Linked DNA regions of Homo sapiens: region 1 is linked to region 2. Evidence: fine-mapped expression QTL. A gene starts in region 2. The other region holds a variant in brackets. All regions are shown on one strand. Distances are between the middles of the regions.

Region 1 (12,400 bases), 240 kb after region 2:
TTTGGTATTTTCTTACAAAAATAAACATATTCTTACCACATGATCTAGCAATCACACTCCTTAGTAATTACCCAAATGAATTAAAAACTCATGTCCACACGAAAACCTGCACATGAATGTTTGGGGGTCTTTTTTGTTGTTTGTTTGGGTTGTTGTTGTTGTTGTTGTTGTTGTTAATTTTTTTTTTTTTTTTTAGAGACAGTGTTTCACTCTGTCACCCAGGCCAGAGTGCAGTGGCACAATCATAGCTCACTGCAGCCTTGACCTCCTGGGTTCAAGCAATCCTCTTGCTCCAGCCTCTTGAGTAGCTTGGACTACAGGGGTGTGCCATCACACTCAGCTAATTTTTTTATTTTGTAGAGACAGTTTCTCACTATTTTGCCCAGGCTAGTCTTGAACTCCTGGCCTCAAGTGATCCTCCCGCCTCAGCCTCCCAAAACACTGGGATTACAGGCATGAGCCACTGTGCCCAGCCCTGCACAAAAATGTTTATAGCAGCTTTATTCAGAATTGCCAAAACTTGGAAGCAACCAAGATGTCTTGCAATAGGTGAATGGATAAACCCGTTGTACATCCAGACAATGGACTATTATTCAGCACTAAGAAAAAATGAGCTATCAAACCACAAAAAGACATGGAGGAAACTTAAATGCATCTTGAAAGAAGCCAGTCCAAAAAGGTTACATACTGTTTGATTCTAACCATATGACTGTAAAAAGATGATGGTTGCCGGGCTTCAGTGAAAGGAAGGGAGGGATGAGTCCATGGAACACAGGTGATTTTGAGGGCAGTGAAACTATTCCTGCATGATACTCTAATGGTGGATACATAACATTATATACTTTTCAAAACTCATAGAACTGTGCAAGACCAAAAGCGAATCTTAACGTAAACAGTGGACTTAAGTTAATGATAATGTATCAGTATCCATTCACTAACTATAATAAATGTATCACACTAATGCAAGATGTTAATAATAGGGGAAACTGCCTGTAGGGGAAGGGGAAGGAAATATATGAGAGCTCTCTGTACTTTCTCTTCAGTTTTTCTATAAACTTAAAACTGTTCTAAAAGTAAAATATATTAATTTAAAAAAGAAAGACTAAAGAGATTGTTCATCAACACCTAACAAAATACCTGGCACAGAGTAGACACGCCATAAATGTTTATTGAATAAATTGATAAACAAATGAGTCAACCAGTGGTTCAGTAGAACCCAGGCCCCCTGAGTCCCAGTTCAGTACTCCTTCTTGTACATCAGAGCTAGAGTAACAGTATAGTTTATTGTCCAAACCAGGATATTTGAGAGTGAAATGGGGTGCCTTAGGTATAAATCAAGACTGTTTCAGAGATAACCAGAAATCACAAACTGGCAGTCCATAAGCTACATCTCGCCTCCAAAATTGTTCTGTTTGGCCACTCATCTTAATGCCTCATATGATATTCTTTTAAAATGTCAGTCATTTGCCCAAATTTAACACAGTGGAAACTGCATAAAAATGTGAAATTTGGACTTCTCTTGGAAAATGGAAGGACTCGGTCCCATGGGGCCGACAGGACTGCACAGTGGTGAGTGGCTGGAGCTGAGCAGCAGCTGCCCACTTTTGCCAGCAGGTACCTTCCTCTTTGCCACAAGCCCCACCAGTCCCTTTTGTATCTCTTACTCTAGGCCAAGTGTGAGTTTCCATTTACACTGTCTTGGTTTTGTTTTCTTCTGTGGCAGAGTTAAGAAAAAAGGGAAATATTTCTTACACTTATGTCATGATTCAAAGTAAGAAAATGAAAAAAGGATCAAGAGGGCCCCTTGTGTCTTGCCCCCAGCCTGCTTTACAAACAGTATATTCTTGGCCTCTCTAGGCAGTTGAGTCTGCCCGCTGTGGTCTGAACTTCTTGTCTCCCTAGGCCCCAGCCTGTGCTAGCCTTTAGAATTTTCTCAGGCTGCCACCCACTGCTGGAAAAGCTAGATGTGAGGGGAAAACAATGGGCATTATTTAAGCTTGCATTTTTATTGTTACCCCAATTCAACATTGCTCATCATCAACTTCTTGGTGAAAATTATTTCTGTTGTTTTTCTTAATTGCCTCCAAATTTAACTGGAGAGTGAGGCAGAGCAGCAGAGGAGTACAGCACCCACCTTTCCTCCCTGCGAACATGTCTTGTTGGAATGCTTTGACATGGAATTTTGTTCATCCTTGCATTCAGTCATTCCCCTAGCTCTGGCTATACTTACAGATGGAAGGACTCTCACTTCACACCAGTGTCCCCTGTAGGTTGTCCTCAGCTGAGGCAACAACACAAGCGAAGGTGTGGAAACAGGAAAGCATGGATGGGGCCCATTTACGCTAAGGAGTTGGACTTCATTCATAGGTGGTAGGTCGGGAACTGCTAAAGTCTTTTTTTTTTTTTTTTTTTTGAAATGGTGTCTCGCTCTGTCACCCAGGCTGGAGTGCAATGGCACCATCTCGGCTCACTACAACCTCCACCTCCCAGGTTCAAGCGATTCTCCTGCCTCAGCCTCCCCAGTAGCTGGGGTTACAGGCGCCCACCACCACACCTGGCTAATTTTTTTGTATTTTTAGTAGAGACGAGGTTTCACCATGTTGGTCAGGCTGGTCTCAAACTCCTGACCTCAGGTGATGCATCCACCTCAGCCTCCCAGAGCGCTGGGATTACAGGCATGAGCCACCACGCCCAGCCTGCTGAAGTCTTTTTGAGCAGAGAAGGAATGTGATCACAGCTAGCAATTGTGCAGGGAATAGCTCTAGAAGCAGGAGGACCAGATAAGAGGTTGTCGCAGTGACCTGAGTAACAAGAGATGTGACTAAAGCAGAGACAGTGGAACAGAAAGAAGGGGATAGATTGGAGAGACATCTTGAGGTTAGGCTTCACAACTCATAAGATGTGGAGAAGGCGTGAACTAAGAAATTAAGGATCAAAGATTATCCAGAGATTTTTTTGAGGTTAGGGGGTTGAAATACCAAAAGCATGATCCAAAAAAAGAAAAAAAATTGATAAGGAATTGGAGCTCATCAAAATCAACTTTTGCTTTACAAAAGACCCTGTTAAGGGAATGAAAAGATAAGTTACATACTGAGATAAGATATTTGCAAATCATATATCCCACAACAGATTTGTATCTAAAATATATAAAGGGCTGGGTGCAGTGGCTCACACCTGTAATCCCAGCACTTTGGGAGGCTGAGGCGGGTGGATTATTTGAGGTCAGGAGTTTGAGACCAGCTTGGCCAACATGGTGAGATCCCCTCTCTACTAAAAATACAAAAATTAGTCGAGCATGGTGGCACATGCCTGTAATCCCAGCTACTAGGGAGGCTGAGGTAGGAGAATCGCTTGAACCCAGGAGGCGGAGTTTGCAGTGAGCCGAGATCGCACCACTGCACTCCAGCCTGGGTGACAGAGTGAGACTGTGTCTCAAAAAATAAAAATAAAAAATATATATAAAGAACTTTCCAAACTCAACAGAAAAAAAAAAAAACAATTAGGAAGTAGGCAAAAGACAAGACATGAAAAGGATATACAGTCAGCAAATGAGCACATGAAAAGATGTTCAACATCATTAGCCATTGGGAAAATGCAAATTGAGATCACAATGTGATATCACTATACATCTATCAGAATGGCCAAAATAAAAACCAACACCAGATGCCAGCAAGAATGCTGAGAAACCAGATGACTCAAACATTGCTGGAGGGAAAGTAAAATGGTACCACCAGTCTGGAAAACAGTTTGGCAATTTCTTATAAAGCTAAACATGCTACTACCATACCTCCCAGCAATTATTCTGTTGAGCATTTGTCCCAGAAAAATGAAAACTATGTTCACACAAAAACCTGTATGTGAATGTTCATAGTGGCTTGATTCTATAGCCAAAAACTGGAAATGACTCAGGTGTCCTTCAGCAGATAAGTAGTTAAACAGATTGTGCTACATCCATACTGTGGAGTACTACTCAGCAAAAAGAAGCAACAAACTTGATACACACCACAACTTGGATGGATCTTAAGAGCAGTATGCTGAGTGAAAAAAGCCTATCTATCTCAAAAGTTTATATACTGTATGGTTCCATTTCTATAACATTCTCAAAATGACCAAATTTTAGAGAAGGATAACAGATGAATGGTTGTTGGGACTTAGGGATGGTGAAGGAGGAGGGATGGGAATGACTGTAAAGGAGGTAGAGGAGGGAAATCTTTGTGGTGATAAAATAGTTTCGCATCTTGATTGTGGTTGAGGTTACATGAATCTACACTTGCGATTAAATGGCCTAGAATTATACACTTATACACACACAAATGAGTGCTTGTAAAACTAGTGACATATTAATAAGATCTGTGAATTGTACCAATGTCAATTTCCTGACTTGGATATTGAACAGTAATTATGTAAGATGTTAACATGTGGGGAAACCTGGGGAAGGGTGTGTAGAACCTCTCTGCACTATTTTTTTTTTGCAGCTTCCTGTTATTCTATAATTATTTTAAAAGTAAGAGCTCAGTACAAAAAAGGAATGAACTTCTATTGATACATGCACAAATCTGCATGAACCTCAAAGGCATTATGCTGAGTAAAAAAATAAAATAGCCTATCTTAAAAGGTTACAGACTGTTTGATTGCATTTATATGGCATTCTCAAAAAGACAACACTACAGTGATGGAGAACAGATCAGTGCTTGCTAGGTGTGGGGGAGAAAGGAAGATGTGATTGCAAAAGGATAGCACAAGGAGATTTGAGGGGTTATGGAACTCCTCTCTGTCATGAATCTATACATATGTTTAAAATCAGATCTGCACATGCACAAATGTCAATTTTACTGCAGAATAAAATTTAAAATAAAAGTAGATAGGCAAGGCCGGGCATACCTGTAATCCCAGCACTTTGGGAGGCCGAGTCGGGTGGATCACGAGATCAAGAGATCGAGACCATCCTGGCCAGCATGGTGAAACCCCATCTCTACTAAAAATACAAAAATTAGCTGGGCATGGTGGCACACACCTGTAGTCATAGTTACTCGGGAGGCTGAGGCAGGAGAATTGCTTGAACCCGGGAGATTGCAGTGAGCCGAGACCGCGCCATTGTACGACAGCCTGGGCAACAAGAGCAAAACTCCATCTCAAAAAAAAAAAAAAAAAAAAAAAGATAGGCAAGTAGTTTGTTTCTGACTTGTTTCTTCTTTCCTTCCTTCCTTTCATTCGTCCATTCATTCAGCCATTTACTGAGCACCTACTATGAGTGAGGCACTGTGCAAGACTTTGGAAATCAACCAAAAGTAAGACAGCCAGGCCCTGCCCTCAGGGAGCATTGTTTCTGTTTCAGAGAAGTGGCCAGTAGGGTTTGGAGCCCAGTGTTTCTACTTGGGGAAGTGTGGCAAGGCAAAGACTACGGAGGGACAAAGTGAGCAACTTTTCATTCCTAGAGCCCAGTCCGGTAGGATTTCAAATGATCACTTTTCCCTCAAAGACTCTTAGGCCTGAGATCAGAGGAAAGCCCCCAATCCGTGTTTCACAGGTACTCACAAGAGAAAATGCTAGGAGGGTTGTGCCTTGCTAAGGGAAGGAAGAAAAGTTGGGGGTGGGGAGCATGAGATTTGATGCAGTTAGTAAAGAATGAACTCTGAAAAGTGTTACGAGAGAGAGAGAGAGACTTAAAACAACCATTTGTTTAGCTCATGACTCTATAGATTGGCAATTGAGCTGAGTTCAGCTGGGTGGCTCTTCTGGTTCTGGCTGGATACACCCAGCATCTGCAGTCAGCTGGCTGTCAAAGGCCTCGATCACATGTCCAGTAATTGGCTGGTGGTTGCCTGGGTGACAGGGATCTCTGGGCCATTTGTTTCTCATCATCCAGCAAGCTATTCTGGTCTTGTTCCTTATGGCGAGGTCACAGAGTTCCCAAGAGCAGCAGAGAATAAGCCCCAAAATATAAGTGCTTTTTAAAAAATAGCTCTATTGGGGTATAATTCACATACATTACCTGACTTTGAATTTTGTTTTCTCCCCTGTTTGCAGGGAATCTGAAGCATGTGGTCTAGTTGACAGAAAGAGATCAGGTTTCCAGAGCTGAGGAGTGGTGCCTATAATGAAGACAGCGTGTTTATGCAAGCAGTTTGTGGAATTTGTGACTGCAGGGAAAATTTGAAAGAAATTACTTCCTGAAAATTTCCAAGGGGCATCAAGTGGCAGCTGGCTTCCTGGGGTGAAGAGGCAGGCACCCCAGAGTCCTCAACTGGACCTAGGGGAAGAAGGAGATATCCCACATTTAAAGTTCTTATTTAAAAAAACACACACACACAAATGAAATTTTTAATCTTTGAAAATTATTTTTAAGCGAATTGGGGAGGGGAGTATTTTAATCATCTTAAATGAAACAGATCAGAAGCTGGATGAGAGCAGTCACCAGTTTGTAGGGCAGGAGGCAGCTGA[C/G]AGGCAGGGTTTGGGCCTCAGGACCATCCAGGTGGAGCCCTGGGAGAGAGGGTACTGATCAGCAGACTGGGAGGTGGGGAGAAGTCCGCTGGTGTTGTTTTAGTGTTATATATCTTTGGTTTTTTTAATAAAATCTTTGAAAACCTACCTCTTTGTCCCGTTGTCTTCATTGTAAAGCGCCACTGACAGCACACACAGTTCTGAACTTTTCTTCTCGCTGAAGTGTCAAGAATAACCCTGTTCCTTCCAATCTCTACTCTGGCCCGGCTTGAGAGTCTGACCTCACTGGGGAACTAGTGTGTCCCTAGCCCAAGTTCTTGGGACAGAAGGCCAAGCTCTGTGTTGCACTGGGGCTGTCCATGGTGGGGTAGGAATACTGGCACTGCAGTCATGGAGAGGGGCTTATTGGCACCCTGGGGAGGAGCTGTCCCTGTCCAGGGAGTGATTTAGGGATGGAAAAGGTGTGTTGGCATGTCAGATCCAAGAGGAGCACTTCCATGGATAGAAAGGATGCTTCCCAGTAGACAATTGGCACATAATGAAAAGGGGAGGAAGTTGTAATGTGTGGTGTTACTGCAACCTCTGGGGAGTTGGCAACATGGAAAAATGGGGATGGGAGATAATGGGAGAGATGAGGAAGAGACAACTAAATGTCATGATATTGTAATTTTATTTACCAAATATTTACAAAGCTCCTTCAACTAACTACTGGGACCGGGACGGCAGACAAGCACACAGCCCCATCCATCCTGGCTGTCTAGGAATTCCCAGACAAGGCAAGGGAGGAGAAAAAGAAGCAGATCCCAACATGTTTCCAGCTCTGTTATCAACATGAGCTCAGAGCTGTGGGAGCACATTTCTACTTTTCAGTATTTTCCAAATTTTCTGTAGTGGGCACATTTTACTTTAATAATAGAAAAAAATAAATACATAAACCCCAAAAAAAAAAAAGAAACAATTGATCCGCGGGGAGTTAGGGGGTAGTTACAGATCAAAGTCAGTTCAAGACACCCACTGAGGAAGACTTTGTGCTCAGGCCCTGGGGCTGTTCTAATTGCCTGGAAGACCGATCAGTGGGGGCGATGGCGGGGAGGGGGATGCGGGGGAGGGGGATGCTTTTTAGATCAGTTGGCTTGAGGGTGGGGCAAATTTGTCCCCACCATAAGCCTGCCTGTCTTACCTTTAGGAAATTGCTGCCGACCCCGCCACCACCCACCCCTTGTGTCTGCAAGGGACCAGCCACAATAACTATAACAACAATGGTAAAGCAAGCATTGGCATATGCCCCATTTTACAGATCATTTTCACTTGTACGTCACTATCCACCCTGCTAGTGGGTATTATCATCCCCACTCTATAGATTAGAAAATTGAGGCTAAGAATGATGAAGTAACATGCCCCTTTTTAAGTGGCAGAGCCAGGAAGAAAAACCCGGCTGGAACTGCAAATTCCCTTACTTTTTCCACTGTCCCACACTAGTGCCACTAGAATATTTTTAAACTGTGACTTTGAAGTAAACAACTTTCTTACTGCTTCCAAAGCCCAAGCTGGACCAAGCCACATGCTGCTTCTGGGCCCTCACCACACAGTAGCATTCATTCGTTTGTGTGCTTTTCAGCAAGTTGCTTGACCTTTCTGGGTCTGTTTCCATACCCATAAAATGGGGTGAATAATTCTTGCACCTCATGGGCTATTGTGAGTGGTTGATGAATTACCAAAGATGGAAGCACTTTGAAAAGCGTGTATTCTGGACAGGAGGGCCTGCCTTGGAAATGGTCCAGGGAAGGCTCACCTCTGAGGAAAACCCAGTGCTTATAGGAAACCCACCAGCCCCCTCTGTCTCCAGGGCACTCACAAGGGCCAAAGAGACCAAGAAAGAAGTGTAGACTATGTCTCCAACTCAAGGGGTAAGAAAATAACCACTTAAAAAGGAATATCGATATTGGATATGCATATATGTGCATAAAACACCTTTGGGAAAATACACAAGGAACTGGGACACCTCAGTTGCCTCTGGGCAAGGGAACCAGATGGCAAGTGGCAGAGTGAGGGCGACCTGCACTCAGTTCCTTTTTGTACCTTTTGATTTTTGAACCATGTGAATGTATTACCTGGTCCCAAAAAAGTTAATACATAACATTTGTTTTTAAGTCAATGGAAAATTCCCACCAGTTTTCCTTTGGGGAGGGTGGATCTGCCTCTGCTGCATTCAATGTTAGCTGTCACAGAGACAGCAGTAGTATATTTCCAATTATATATTTAAAAGACTCTAAGGCAGAAAGACTTCTTTATAAGAAAATCAAATATTGTCATTCAACAAAAAAAAAAGGAAAAAGAGGAAGAGGAGAAGGAAAAGAAGGAGGAAGAGAAAAGCAGAAGAATGAAAGAAAACAACCACGTAAACAAGTGTGTTTTGACATCTCTAAGCCCCTATACAGAAAGCTCCTGCAGCTCCTCCTTCTCTGCATTTGCCAGGGGCAGATCCCCAAACCTCCTGCTCAGTGCTGGGCCCAAAGCTGACCGGTAGTGCCTTGGCATGCAACATAACACACTTCAGCCTCAGACTGCCTGAGTTTAAGCCTCTCCCTTCACTTACTAGCTGTGTGACCTTGGCCAAGTAACTCCCTCTCTCTGAGCCTTAGTCTTATTGTCTATCAAATGGCGACACTTACCTGTACCTACCTCATGGGGGTGGTTGCGAGGGACCAAAGAGATAATGCAGAAAAGCATGTAGTAGAGCGCATGTTATATATTAGTAGTAGACACTGTTCTTGCCCTAAATGTGAACACGCTGTGGGTAAGGAAACTTCCTGGGGTTCCCTGGCTTCAGGAATTAGGGAAATAGTATGCAAATTTGTGTGACTGTACATATGTACATTTTTCTGGGGCACAGAGCCATAGCTATTATCAGAGTCTCAACACTCAAAGGAGTTTTGTGATTACAAAAAGGATGAGATCTACAGACGTAGAGGTAAAGACAGACATAAATAGAGCTGTCTAAGACAGGGGCCCCTCACCTCATGATCTATGCACACGCTAGTCCTGCTTGGAATGCCCCAATCTTCCCTAGACTGGCTCCTTCTCCTCATTCAGTTGTCTGACTCAATTAAATACCCTAGGGCCGGGCCCGGAGGCTCACATCAGTAATCCCAACACTTTGAGAAGCCGAGGTGGGAGGATTGCTTGAGCCCAGGAGTTCCATACCAGCCTGGCCAACATGGCAAAACCCCATCTCTACTAAAAATACAAAAATGAGCTAGGCGTGGTGGCACATGCCTGTAGTACCAACTACTCAGGAGGCTGAGGCAGGAGGATGCCTTGAGCCCTGGAGGTCGAGGCAGCAGTGAGCCATGATTGCACCACTGCACTCCAGCCTGGGCAACAGAGCAAGACCCTGTCTCAAATAATAATAATAATATGGCTGGGTGTGGCGGCTCATGCCTGTAATCCCAACACTTTGGGAGGCAGAGGTTGGCCATTCACCTGAGGTCAGGACTTCGAGACCAACCTGGCCAACATGGCAAAACCCCGTCTTTACTAAAAATACAAAAAAATTAGCCAGACTTGGTGGCGCATGCTTGTAATCCCAGCTACTCAGGAAACTGAGGCAGGAAAATCGCTTGAACCCAAGAGATGGAGGTTGCAGTGAGCCAAGATTGTGTCACTGCACTCCAGCCTGGGTGACAGAGTGAGACTCTGTCTCAAAAAATTTAAAAAAACAGCCGGGTGCGGTGGCTCATGCCTGTAATCCCAGCACTTTGGGAGGCCGAGGCAGGTGGATCACCTGAGGTCAGGAGTTCAAGACCAGCCTGGCCAACATGGTGAAACCCCGTCTCTACTAAAAATACAAAAATTAGCTGGGTGTGATGGCGCATGCCTGTAATCCGAGCTACTCAGGAGGCTGAGGAAGGAGAATCGCTTGAACCCAGGAGGTGGAGGTCGCAGTGAGCCAAGGTCCGCGCCACTGCACTCCAGCCTGCTCGACGGGAGCAAGACTCCATCTCAAAAAAAAATAAATTAAATAAATAAATAAGTTATAATAATAATACTGTGACCACCCTACCCTAACTAAAGTAGCCATCTTGTCCTGGCAATCCCCAGATACCATCTATCATTTATCATTATCTATTTCTCTCTCCTCCTCTCTCTCTCTTTTTCTTTCTTTTTTTTTTTTTTTTTTTTTTTTTTTTGAGATGGAGTCTCACTCTGTCGCCCAGGCTGGAGTGCAGTGGCACAGTCTCAGCTCACTGCAAGCTCCGCCTCCCCCAGGTTCACGCCATTCTCCTGCCTCAGCCTCCCGAGTAGCTGGGACTACAGGCGCCCGCCACCACGCTCGGCTAATTTTTTGTATTTTTAGTAGAGACGGGGTTTCACCATGTTAGCCAGGATGGTCTCGATCTCCTGACCTCGTGATCCGCCCGCCTCAGCCTCCCAAAGTGCTGGGATTACAGGTGTGAGCCACCGCGCCCAGTCTCCTCTCTCTCTCTCTCTCAATACATACTTAGAGAATGGTAGAACTATGTAATAAGACAGAGCAATGCCTTATTCTAGGTATTATTAACACAGAGGAGGAGACAAGCAATCTAGACTGGGGCAACCATGAAGGCTACAAGCAGGCGGTGACACTCAAGCTGAATCTTGGGCCAGGCATGGGAGGAGGCATTCCAGGCAAAGGGACTGGAATACATGAAGGCAAGAAGGCACAGGAAATTTAGGGAAGCAATAAGCAGCTTGGTGTTGCTGGAACACAGGATATTTGACGGTATCCAAGCAAACCAACTGTAAAAAGATGTTATTAAAACAATGAGGGAACATTGGACAGGTTATGTTAAGAAATTATTGATAATTTTGTTAAGTACAATAACAGCATGGTGGTTATATACACATATATTTTATATCCTCATCTTATAGAGAGATAAAGAGAAGTATTTATAGATGAACTGTATCTGGATGCTCCAGAGGAGGAAAATGTATATGGAGGGTGGGGAGGGAGGGGGACGTGGGTAAAACAAAATTTTAAAATGTTGATCACTGTTAAAGTGGATTGAATGAAAATATGGGAGTTGATTATATAGTCTCTCTGGTTTTGTGGTTTTTCAATTTTCATAATAAAACATTAAAATCTATATTGGTGAGTTGCTGCAAGTAAAGATAGCAGGGACCAGATCACAAAGGGCTTCCTGTGCCAGGTTGGGGGGCTGGGCTTGAGCCTGCAGGTAAGGACGCCATCAGAGTTTTAAGCCAAGGAGTGGTCTGATCAGATTTGCATTCTGAAAAGCTCGCTCTGGCTACTGTGTGGACAAAAAAATAAATAAATAATAAGGAGCCTGGTAAGGCCCAGCTCCAAAGTGACTGCCTGTGAGAAGCCTCTGTTTACCTCAGATGGAGTCCTGGCACCTTCCTCCTTTGGCCCACTATGCCTTTCTCCTAACCACTTACTTGGTAAGAGAATGTGTGTGTGTGTTTGTGTGTGTGTGTGTGTGTGTGTGTGTGTGTGTGTAATGAAATATTTCCCCTCAATATATGCTTCAGGTAAAAACTTTCAGATAATACAGATAATGGTTCCCTCATATCCCTATACTTCAGTGATAACCACTATTGGCAATTTAGTGTTTTTCTTTCCAGACTTTTTTTCATTTGCTCCATAAATATTATTGAGCACCTACTATGTGCCATGCAGCGTGCCAGGCACTAGGGTTACATCTGTGTACAAACAGACAACGATCTCTGTCTCAATGGAGCTGGCATTATGCATATATGACCATTTGACTTTTATGTAAATGAAATGAAACTGTTCTGCAACCTGATTTTTCTTTCACTTAATTATACGCCGTGGACAGCTTTCCATATCAATCTAGAAACAGCTACTTTATTCATCTTCCATTATAACATATGCCAGACATACCAAAAAGGAAGGCACACCTGATGCTTGAAATGATCCTATTATATGGATGCTTCA
Region 2 (12,400 bases):
CCCTGACACCCTATCCCCCCATCTATTCTTAAACTCTTTCATATATATTTTCACTTCCTAATTCTAGTGTACATATCCCTGTATATCATGGTATCTGTGGGCATATGTCTGTTTCTTATAAAGACACATATTTGTGTGTGTATGTGTGTGTGTGTGTGTGTGTGTGTATAAGCATACATGGGAATTTTTCTGAATGTAAGCAGTTTTGATGTGTCTGTATATCAATCTGTATCTACATTTGATGGACTGAGTAAGAATGTTGCATGTGAGAGAAGGGATGTGACTGTGGACTCAGATTGACACACACAGATTGGTGGAAGAATAGCTTCAGTCCTCTTCCTTCATCCCATATGTAGGTAGCCTTGCTTGACAAATGTTTCTTCTAACTCTCCTTCTTCTGAATTGTGCAGAGACTCTGTTAACTTCCCTTTTTGCACTTAGATAACTTCCTACTTCAACCCCCTCCTTTATCTTGGATTTCTAAAGTTTTTCCCCAATATTGGGAATGGTGAGGGTGGGGATGAGAGACTCTCTGAACAATTCTTGCAGAACCAGTGACAATCTTATGAATATAATGAATAAGTAAGCATATAGTAGGGTGATAGAATACAGATAGTAGAAACAAAGAGAGGACAGCAAACCTTTTCAGCACTTCTCTCAGAGCAAATGGAAACACACAGTAAGTAGCTTTCTGACTACATTATTTTCTGGTCACTTTTAAAGAAAGTTTACAACCTGTTCTGAAACTATTTGTCTTTTCACTGGTTGTAAGTGTACCCCAATCTCAGGGAGTATATCTGTAGTGCCACAGGCAAAAGATCCACTCCTTCCCACACTCATTTGCCTGAACTTACTCGAAGGGCTGCATTTCTCTGAGTTTACGAAATTGTGTCATTATGGTCCCCATACAGTGGTATTTAACTTTTAAAGCAACTTTTAAGAAAACTCGACTTGTTTTTTGTTCATTTTAAGTGTGTGGTACTAAAAAGACATGTTAGACTTTTTTTAAAAAAGCACTTATGTTTTGAAAATAGAATAAATAATAAGAATTTCCAATTAAATCATGTCTGGTGCCAATGTGCAAAACTTCACATGTGTTTTTGTGATTGGAGTTTATTTCATGGCTTTATTCTACATACTCTGCTTAATTATACAGTACAGTCAAAGCTCATTCATTGGGTTGAAGTAGAATAATATTAATATATTAATACATATATAATATATTATACATTTCATAATATGTTAGATAATATATGTAAAGAAATGCAGTTTAATCATTCAAATACATACCCACTCAAACAAGGCTTACTAAATTCAAGCGGGCTTATTGACATCTGTAGGGAACATTTTCTTTTCTTTTCTTTTCTTTTCTTTTCTTTTCTTTTCTTTTCTTTTCTTTTCTTTTCTTTTCTTTTTTTTTTTTTTTAAGACGGAGTCTTGCTCTATCGCCCAGGCTGGAGTGCAGTGGGGTGATCTCGGCTCACTGCAACCGCTGCCTCCCGGATTCAAGCGATTCTCCTGTCTCAGCCTCCCGAGTAGCTGGGATTACAGGCATGCGCCACCACACCCAGCTAATTTTTTTTGTATTTCTAGTAGAGACGGGGTTTCACCATGTTGGCCAGTCTGGTCTCAAACTCCTGATCTCAGGTGATCCGCCTGCCTCAGCCTCCCAAAGTGCTGGGATTACACTCGTGAGCCACCGCGCCTGGCCTGTAGGGAACATTTTCTGATGAATGAGTAAAACATTTTTACTCAGCCTTTCAATTGTGTACAAATGGTGCTTCTTCCCTAATGAAGGGTATTTTAAAACAACTTGTTTTTCTAAATATTAAAAATATTTGGCAGAATCTTGTTTGTTTATACTATTCATTAGCCTTTTCTATAACAGGATTTATCCAGCAAGGATGAACATTGTCTCTACAGTTCCATCCTGGTTAATGAAATTTTACTACATTCTGGGAATCTTACACAACTGGTGGGGCAAAAGTTGTTCTTCACCACAGCTGGCAAAACCTCTGCCATTCCTTTTTCTACTTACCAAGTACCTAGTGTCTGCACTAATGCAGTGGAGATTATTTTCCACATGTAGTCTTCATTTCCTTTTTATTTATTTAATTTTAAAAAAATACAGCCATCAATTTTTATTCTTATATTTGGTAGACATTCATTTCCTTTTTAACTTGAGTAACCTCAGGTGTTGGTTTGTCCAGGGCAGCCCCCATTTATGCCTGTTTTACTGGCATAATTATCAATAGCACTGTGTCACTCTCAAAAAATGTCTCAGTTTGAAAGATATGGTCACCCTATATTTAGCAGATGTGTGATTTCTTTTAAGGCTAAGCCAAAAAACCAAGAACTTATTCTCAAACCACTAGTAGTACTTGTGCAGTAGTGGTATGGGGGTAAGGATGACAGTAGGGGGAAACTCCCTTCCCCACCAAATATAGAAATATTTGGCATAATGGCTCTTAAATAACCAATATTTGAGCACATACCAAATGCCATTGTTATATAGGCACTTAGCGTGAGCCATTTTATCTTCACAATTGCCATGTAAGATAGATACTGCCATCTTACAAGTAAGCTACCTGAGGCACTGAGGGTTTAAGTAAATTGCCCCAAATCAATCATCTAATAAGTGATAGAGCTGGAAGTTGAACCCATGCAGTCTGACGCTAGCGATCACATTCTCAACAATGACACTCTCCAAGGAAAATGACATTAAGGGGGTGGTGTGACAAGGGTCAGTTGAAGACAGTTGAAGTGTCACTGGACAGATAGTGAAATGAGCAGAGAAGACTCTGCTCATTCACTGAAGGGTGGTGCCCTTGTAATGTGTTTGCCTCCCCTTCTGGGGAAAAGCAGGGGAAAGCACCAAAAAAATATGGCACAGCCCAACCTGAACTTACCGGTTCGAATGTTACTTTTAGCAATAATGATTGAGGAAAGTGAGTCAAGTAACTTGCCCTGGGTCACCACCCTAGCAAGCTTTGAAGCCAAGATTCAACCTACTTCCTGTGACCTCAAGTCCTCCAACTGCAAATAAAGTGCATTGAGAAGGGTTTTCTTCCCAGTTTAAGAACCATATGGGTGTTACGAATGTGGAAAATTGAGGTGAGGGACCTGTGGCATGATGTGTGCTCTTTCTTAACCATGAGCAAGCGTCTAGCCGCCCTTTGAGATTAGCTGCAGGAATAGGTTGCCAATTCCAGAGCATTGTGCAACAATTTATCTTTCTCCATAGCTGAATCATCTTGCCACATTGCATGGGGTACTTGGATAGTGTTTCCAGTTTAGAGCCATTCAGCTATTTGTTACTAGATCAGAAAGGACACATGAAACAATACCTTTTCATGTCATCCAAGAAGAGTCCAGAATTTAGGGTATCAGTTGGCCAGTCTATCTCCTGCCCTCTTTCCGCTGCCTATCCCTGAAGGCCCAGAACAAGTCTCATTTCTCCTTATGTTGCCCGTCATCATGATCTCACCTTTCAGTCAACTCCTGTAGCTTCTCCTGTCTATAAACATGTGCAGTTTTCTCTTATCTTAAAAAAATTTCTGGGCTCCGACGTCCCCTCAAGCTGTTAGACTAACTCCTTCCTTTCACAATCACATTTTTTCAAAGAGGAAGCTACACTTAACTGTGTTGGCTTCACTTCTTAAACCCCCACAATCTGGCTTCCTCCCCACCTCCTGTTTTGTTTTGTTCCATAGGGCACCAGTGAATTTCTAATGACAAAAAGGGGTCTTTGACCATTCCTTGTCTTCTTTCTGACATCTTTTTCTCCTCTAAACTCTTACACACAGGCATTTCCAAAAATGACACTCTTCTTCCTAGCTCAGAGGTCTTCACCAGAGTCTGGGGCAGGTTTTGTGACATGATCTGATTTACTTTTTTTTGGAGGTTCACTCTGGTGGCTGCAAAGATAATGGGTTGTAAGGCAGCAAGAATGGAAGCAACGCCCAGGTTGATACTGCAGAAAGTCTAAGTGAGAGATAATAGTATCCAGACTAGAGTGGTGGCAGTACAGAGTGAGAGAAGTGAATGTATTTAAGGCATGTCTTGGACATAGAACCAATGGAAATTTCTGATGGACTGGATCTGCAGGTGAAGGAAAGGAAGAAACACAAATAACTCCCAGGTTTCTGACTTAGGCAACTGGATAGATGTTGATATCTTTACTGAGCTATGAAAGATAGAAAAGGAGTGGAAAGAACTTGGGTGGGGAAATTGGGAGCTTGGTTTTGAAAATGTTGTTGGATATGACTGTTAGGCATCCCAGTGGAGAAAGCCACATCCCTTGCCTAGCTCAGCCACTCTTATGACTTCAGTTTTCTCCTCTTTATATGGAAAAGTGTGTGTGTGTGTATCACTGCAATTGTTTAACCCACTAATTTCTGAAACACTTTTCAACACTTTTAAAATCAGAATCTATGTCTATTCTGCCCTACTGTATGAGTTCTTCCTCCCGATTGCCCTCTTTCTTATATTGCTACCTCTAGTCTTTTCTTTACCCAGAGTTTACATTTAAGAGTTTTCAGCAACCCTTTTCCATCTTCCTCCCTCTCACCAATATCCAAGTAATAAAAAAGTCCTGTTGAACCTACCCTGTACATTATTTCTCCTTTGTTCCCATTGCCCCCACCCTAGTTTAAAATCATTATCACTTCTTATTTGGACCATTGTGGCACTCTAACTGCCCCTAGCCTTTTAATGACTAATCTTTCCTACACACTGCTGCTATAGAAATCTTTTTTCCTTACTATTTCTGTCTAAATATGTTTTCCCATTTCCCACAGAATGTAGTCTATTCTCTTTAGCCTGGTATTCAATGTTCTTCATGATCTGGCCCTTTTAGCTAAACTCGACTAGAAATTTTCCCTTTTGTGTTACTGTTTATGCTGTTCATTCTAGTCAGCATGCCCTCTCCTGGCTCCCATCTTCACCAAGCAAAATCTTGCCCACCTCCTAAGACCCTCTCAAATGCCATCAAAGATGAATTCTAGTTACCATTTATTAAATGCCAGTTATTTAGTACTTAATGCTTATTTATTAAGTAGGCTAAGCATCCTACATTCATTGACTCTGCATTGCCTTTGGTTTCTTGTGTACTTGCCCCATCTTCTGTATAAGAATGCAAATTCTGGCTGGGCGCGGTGGCTCACACTTGTAATCCCAGCACTTTGGGAGGCCGAGGCGGGCGGATCACGAGGTCAGGAGATAGAGACCACGGTGAAACCCCGTCTCTACTAAAAATAAAAAAATTAGCTGGGCGTGGTGGCGGGCGCCTGTAGTCCCAGCTACTTGGACAGGCTGAGGCAGGAGAATGGCATGAACCCGGGAGGCGGAGCTTGCAGCGAGAGGAGATCGCGCCACGGCACTCCAGCCTGGGCGACAGAGCAAGACTCCTCTGTCTCAAAAAAAAAAAAAAAAAAAAAAAGAATGCAAATTCCTTGAGAGCAGAGATCACATCATAATTTACCTTTGAATCCTCAGCTGTACTGTACACTTAATATCAGATAAATGTTTGATGAATGAATGACTGCAGAGCTTTTAACTAGTTACTATGGGAAGACATAAATTAAAGAAACATAAGATCTTACATTCTAGTTACAGAGCACATCACCAAAACACCCCCAAGATTTTCAGAATAAGTATTGAAGGGATACAAAATGGAGGGTGAACAAAGTTATATCATAACACAAAGTCATCCTGGACGAATCAAGTTTATATAATAAAGGGAATGTTCAAAGGCTTCAGTGTCAGGCTGACCTAATTTTGAATTCCTACTTATCTGCTTGTTAAGTATGTGATTTTGAATGTTGTTTCTCTAAACTGCATCTGTAAAATGGGTGTATTGCAACCTCCTTTATAGGACTGTTGCAAGGATGAAATGAGATAATATGGCCAATGTGCATGTCACAATCTTCAATAAATGTTTAAAGTCTAAAAAGCAAGCCAGACTTTAAATATAGTAAGGATATTAGGTTGTCCCAGTGGTGTTAGTCAGTCAGTTTAGGTTGCCATGAGAATTAAGATCCTGAGCACTGGCCAGCTTGTATCAGATCATAGGGGCCTCCAGGAACCTCCAAATGCTGATGGTAATTCTAAAACCGCCTCAGATAGTCTTAAACTGGACCCTCACACCAAACCTAAAATATTTCCCTAATCTATGTTTAGCTGCAGAAACAAGAGGAGGTAGGAGGAGAAGAGCTGCAGTTTCCAAACACCACTGCTTGCAACCTTCCTACCACATGAATGTTCAAGGAGTTACATTTGACATCATTGCTTGATCGGAATCTACCAAGCAATTTCCACTGCACCAGCCAGTCTCTTGGGAAAGTACTATCAGATTTGCCAGAGTAAATTATTGAGATTGTTAACTCTCATGTGGACATGGATAGTTAATGATGAAAAGAAATGAACTATAAAATTGCATCACAGAATTTACTGTGTAAACTTTTCAAACCATTTGTGCCATTAAATAGCGCCCCCACCAAAAAAAAAAAAAAAAAAAAAAAGCCTATCCTTAGGATAGGCAGCTGATGTAGCTGGATGGTGGGGGCTCTAGGTGGCCACGTTCTATCTGTGTTTATATGGTTAAATGGATGAAATGGATGTGTTTGCAGATTGAAACAATTCATAAAGAGTTGAGGCTACTTTTTTTTTTTTTTTTTTTTGGTCTTAGCGCTGAAACTAAAAATCGCGGTTATTTTAGTGTTTAGCCCCGGCTCTTCCGTTGCTCAAACCTCCGGAAACTACATCTCCCAGCATGCTGTGAAACTGGTCTGACTTCATCTCAAATGGCCCCGTAGGGCAACAAGGATGGTTAGTTTTGACCCTACTTATTTGTGCCATAAAAACAATCGATCCTAATTGACAGCTATTTGGACTTTTACATCTGCCAAACCCTTTTCCTTGAACTGTGGTCACTAAATGAGGGGAGTCTGGTCTGGGAAGTCCCATCCATTCCTTCAATAGGATGGGGAGCGGTGATAGTGTCTCCGGCGATCTCAAGAATAGGAGGGAATGTTGACCAGGGAGCACCGCTGCGGCCGATCAGAGGAGCAGGAACTGGAACCCTGGCCGAGTCCGAAAAAAGCCAGATCTGGAAGGTGGCTGCGGAACGGTTTTAAGCGGAAGATGGAGGAGCCGGAGGAACCGGCGGACAGTGGGCAGTCGCTGGTCCCGGTTTATATCTATAGTCCCGAGTATGTCAGTATGTGTGACTCCCTGGCCAAGATCCCCAAACGGGTAAGGGAAGTCGGGATGAAAGACCATGGGCTTTGGGGGTGGGGGTGGGGGCGGTGGACGAAAGAGCGTTAGGAAGCGGAGAGGACACTGGGCTGGGGGAAATCTTCAGAAATTTCGAGTAGCTGTATCAGATACCTAAAGCTGTATCAGAAGGAAGTGTTCTCATATCGTTTCTGAGAGCGCAGCATGTCTCTTCGGGACGTCCAATGGACAGGTAGGAGTGGGGGAGGGGGTACGGAGGAGGGGAGAGGACGCAGTTTCCACTCATAGGGGACCGCTGAAGTCGTGGGAAAACAAGCTGCAGGGGGAAGGTGTTCCATCACCTGCCTAAGGCCCGGTAGCTTTCACCTTAGTGATTTTGATACTTTGTATCTGTATTGTCTAAAGTGTATTGTAACTGTTAACAGAAGGGAAGCCAGTTGAAACAAAATTAATCCGTTCCTTTGTTCAGGATGGTGAGATTGACGGGGATTTTGCTGAATTAAACTTTAAAGAGACTATTTCTGCTTTTCTTTTTTTTTTTTTACGCTGATGTTTTTAGGCCAGTATGGTGCATTCTTTGATTGAAGCATATGCACTGCATAAGCAGATGAGGTAAGTTGTCTTTCTTGAACATAGCCCTGAAGCTAGGTGTTCGTAGCCTTAATATCCTGCTTCACAGTGGGGCAAGGAAAAGAATGGTCTTTTGAAAAAATTATTTTAGCTTTCTGTGAAAGTATTCACAGTGTTTGTAATCTGCCTGTAATCCCAAGAAAGCTCTTGAAGAATTAAGAAAACTTGGGGGGCCGAGAGCATGGCTCACGCCTGTAATCCCAGCACTTTGGGAGGCCTAGGTGGGTGGATCGCCTGAGGTCAGTAATTTGAGACCAGCCTGCCCAACATGGCAAAACCCCGTCTCTACTAAAAATACAAAAAAATTAGCCGGACGTGGTAGCGGGCGCCTGTAATCCCAGCTACTCGGGAGGCTGAGGCAGGAGAATCGCTTGAACCCCGGAGGTGAAGGTTGCAGTGAGCCGAGATTGCACCATTGCACTGCAGCCTGGGCAACAAGAGTGAAACTCCGTCTCAAAAAAAAAAAAAAAAAAAAAAAAAAAAAAGAAAGAAAGAAAGAAAAAGAAAAGAAAACTTGGGACAGGGGAGTGGAAAGTGCAGGAAGCAGTTAAGGTTCATTAGAAATACAGCTCGATTGCTTGGTTAAGTATCCCAGGGGTAGGTGCAGTGCATTGTGGAGATTTTGAGTACATTTGGGTATTAAAACCTGTCTCATACAAAAAGGTGTTCAGCTAGGAGGTGTTCCATTTTTCTTTTGATTTCGTTTCATTCTAAGCCAGATTTGAGGGTGTGAGTTCAACCTAAGACTTTTAGACAACCCACCACCAGCACCAAACTTTAATGGGTGAGGCTGGAGACAGATCAAGACCAAAGAAGGCCGGGCGTGGTGGCTCACGCCTGTAATCCTAGTACTTTGGGAGGCTGAGGCAGGCGGATCATGAGCTCAGGAGATCAAGACCATCCTGGCTAACACGGTGAAACCCCGTCTCTACTAAAAATACAAAAAATTAGCCGGGCGTGGTGGCAGGCGCCTGTAGTCCCAGCTACTCGGGAGGCTGAGGCAGGAGAATGGTGTGAACCCGAGAGGCGGAGCTTGCAGTGAGCCGAGATTGCGCCACTGCACCCCAGCCTGGGTGACAGAGTGAGACTCCGTCTCAAAAAACAAACAAACAAAAAAGACCAAAGAAAACTGCCAAGACTGCGCCAGAACTCAAGAGAGAGCTAACTGTTTCTTCCAAAAACATGAACTTGCTGTTTATTGCCATTTCTGTATTTGATGTCGTTATAAGAGCAAATATAACCCTGCCACATATAGGATTACTTATGACAATTTCTGGCCAAATAGGTGAGTGCTCATACCAACTAGTGTGCTATGCTTCATTTATCTCCCAGAAGGTAGTGTAATAATAGGCTTTCAGATTTTATCCTTATTATTAACAAAATCATTTTGTACCTTTTAAAGGGAATTTTTAAGCCTTTTTTTTTTTTTTTTGATGGAGTCTTGCTTTGTCGCGCAGGCTGGAGTGCAGTGGCGCGATCTCGGCTCATTGCAACCTCCGCCTCCCAGGTTCAAGCGATTCTCCTGCCTCAGCCTCCCGAGTAGCTGGGACTACAGGCACGTGTCACCACACCCATTTTAAGCCATTTTTTAACCCATATGGTTTGGTTAACATAGTAACTATATGCCTTCCATTAAAGTTATTTAACATTTCAAAAAATTATTTTATGACAAACAAGATATCAAAGCAAAGCAAAACTGTCCAGTTTGCTTACTGTTAAATAGGGAGGTTTTCAGTAAGTGTTTTTTAACATTTACCAAAATAAATGGAAGGGTACTAGAAGAGGGAGCTTTTAGGACTGGGAAATACGGTCCGAGATATTACAAAATTTTTATTTTAATGGGTAGATTTTTCACCTCTGGTGGTATAGATTTGTCTTCTTTAAGAAGAAGCAAGAATTCTTGGGTCTTGGCTATGTATTTCACTTTTGAGGCCAAACCACAGGATTTCTTCCAGCTACCTTGGTGATAGTAGTAGCCTGTATAGTCGTATTCATTCATCGTAAACTCATGGCTGTGTTCCCATTCAGCAGACATTTAAAACCACTGCTGCCTCCCTGTGGCCCAGGTCAGGGCTCCTTCAACTTGAATGTGTATATGAATCACCTTAAAATGTGTCATCTTGTTTAAAAATCATCATGTTAAAATACAAATTCTGACTCAGGTCTGAGGCAAGTCTGAAGTTCTGCATTTCTAACAAGCACCCAGGGAATGCTGATGCTCCTGGTCTATGGACCACCCTTTAAGTGGCAAGGGCTAGAGAACAGTAGTGGCAGCTGTGGGGTCAAGAAGAGGAAATGGGGAATAGGCAGCTAGAGGTTAGATGTGGTAAGGCCTCTTATTGGGTTAGCTCCCTTTATTCCCTCACTCGCTTCTATTTGTCATTTTTCGTGAGGAGTAGGTTGAGAGGTTCTGAGTGAAGTCCGGTTCCAACCATTTTGCCCCTTCTCGCCTCGCTCTCAGAGGCAGATAGGAGGGTCCAAGTCTAGAAACATTACATTTTGGGTTGCCCATTTTTTATCTGTTAATAGAATGATAGTTATCCACCAAGCATTTTTGTATGTGTTATCCTTTTATCTTCACATAAGTCCCATAAAGTTCCCCATTTTACAAATAAGAAAACTGAACTACAGAACAGTTGACTTATCTGAGGTTATAGAGCTAGTAAGTACAGAATTAGGACAGGAACCCAATTCTCTGACTCCAAATCTGACTCCAAATTCAAAATGCATGATAACATAGCTGCCTATTAAAATAAAGATATAGCTGAAAGGATTAGATAGCCCAATTCGCAACTGGTTCAAATGAAAATATCCCTGCCTACTAGTTTGTCCTGAAAGTTGTAACTCACAGGGTAAAGTCTGTCTGATACCTGATTATTTGTTTAACTTGAATATAATTACTTTTGTTTACTTACCTATAAACTCAAGGGAAAATCTATCTTCTTGCCCCTTATTAATAGAGTCACTACTGTAGATGTGAGGCAGTGAAGACCGCACAGTGCAGTGGAAGAACAGAATATGTTTATTACTCCAGCCTATTGGAACCAGAAGTTGAGACGTATTTTCTTCTCAGACTGCTGGCTTCTGTTTCTAGCTTCTGGCATACGCTGGGTCTGACTCACTGACCTCTCTTTGTTCTCTCTGTTATTATTAGGATAGTTAAGCCTAAAGTGGCCTCCATGGAGGAGATGGCCACCTTCCACACTGATGCTTATCTGCAGCATCTCCAGAAGGTCAGCCAAGAGGGCGATGATGATCATCCGGACTCCATAGAATATGGGCTAGGTAAAGTCATTACCAGGCAGTGATGGGAGATGGACAGACTAATTTTTTTTATAACTTGTATGATTTTTTTAATATTTTTCGTTAAGAAATCATGTGTTAACTGTCAATCTTAATCTTTTGGTTTAGCCACATATAACTCACTAAACAAGCAAACCATATGAGTTGAGCAAAACCACATGAAGGGTTAGATGAAAGAAAACCTTTCAGTTGCTTATGCCCTACTGGCAGTGCTCAGATCTGGTCTGGCTGTGTATATGCTGATTTAGCTGTCCTGTGACCTTATATTTTAACTGGAGTACAGATTTATGTTCTGGCTAAGTTTTTGTACCTCACCCCTCATTAAACAGCTGCATTTTTTAAAACTGTAAGTGACCTGCAGGATAGTCTAGAAAAACAGCATGGTTTAGCAGAGGAACATTGAACTGGGGGGTCAACAGAGCTGGGTCCCAAGCCTGGCTCTGTGTGACCACTGACAAGACACATCACCTCTCAGGCTTGGTTTCTCTATCTGTAGCCTGTGACTAGTTCATCAGGAGGGTTTATCCTTTCTAGCTCTAACCTTTTAAAATATTATATCCCCAACATTGGAGTTGTTTCTGTCTCAGTTGGAGCTGATATTAGCACAGTGGCTTTTTAGTAGGTTAGGTTGTTGTCACACCTCAACCTATTCCTCCTCTTTTTCCAGTTCACCTTTTAACCAGCTCTTCTGATTTTTGCCCTAAGGTTATGACTGCCCAGCCACTGAAGGGATATTTGACTATGCAGCAGCTATAGGAGGGGCTACGATCACAGCTGCCCAATGCCTGATTGACGGAATGTGCAAAGTAGCAATTAACTGGTCTGGAGGGTGGCATCATGCAAAGAAGTAAGAAAATGACCTTTCTGTTTTCTGACTCTTTCCTTGAGTCAGTTTCTCAGTTATGTAAACTCTTATGCTTATTGTATTGACATTTACAGAGAGACGTGTGTGTATGTGGCACTTTACAAGGCATTCTGAAGAAATCCAAGTGAAATAGAAAAAAGATTACCTAATATAGTGGAAAGCACACTGCTCAAAGTCAGGACACCTGGGCTCTACACCTAGTTTTTCTAACTTGGCTAACTGACTTGGACTGATTACCCTCCCTAGGCCTCAGTTTCTTCATCAATAAAATGAACAAAGGATACAACTAGACAGTCTCTAAATTCCTTTTCGGCTTTCTAGAAATTCCCCTGTCTTCGAGGGACTTACAGTCTAGAAACATTAACA

Evidence for each region.
Region 1: its variant is fine-mapped to the expression of HDAC8 in whole blood (TOPMed, PIP above 0.99). The same link has a PIP of 0.9 or more in cerebellum and thyroid.

The regions. Positions count from the first base shown.
Region 1 is chrX:72,323,704-72,336,103 of GRCh38, reverse strand. HDAC8 (histone deacetylase 8) reads left to right here. Exons shown (of 11, transcript NM_018486.3): 11 at 6,028-6,588. The coding sequence ends at 6,050. Among named protein-coding and RNA genes, the nearest start is that of CITED1, 24 kb to the right of the region's middle. The variant C/G (reference allele first, on the strand shown) is at 6,442.
Region 2 is chrX:72,567,505-72,579,904 of GRCh38, reverse strand. It overlaps HDAC8 (histone deacetylase 8), which reads left to right and starts at 7,062. Exons shown (of 11, transcript NM_018486.3): 1 at 7,062-7,254; 2 at 7,796-7,848; 3 at 11,021-11,151; 4 at 11,875-12,016. The coding sequence starts at 7,144. PHKA1 (phosphorylase kinase regulatory subunit alpha 1) reads left to right here. Exons shown (of 32, transcript NM_002637.4): 32 at 1-1,091. RefSeq lists an enhancer at 6,970-7,099.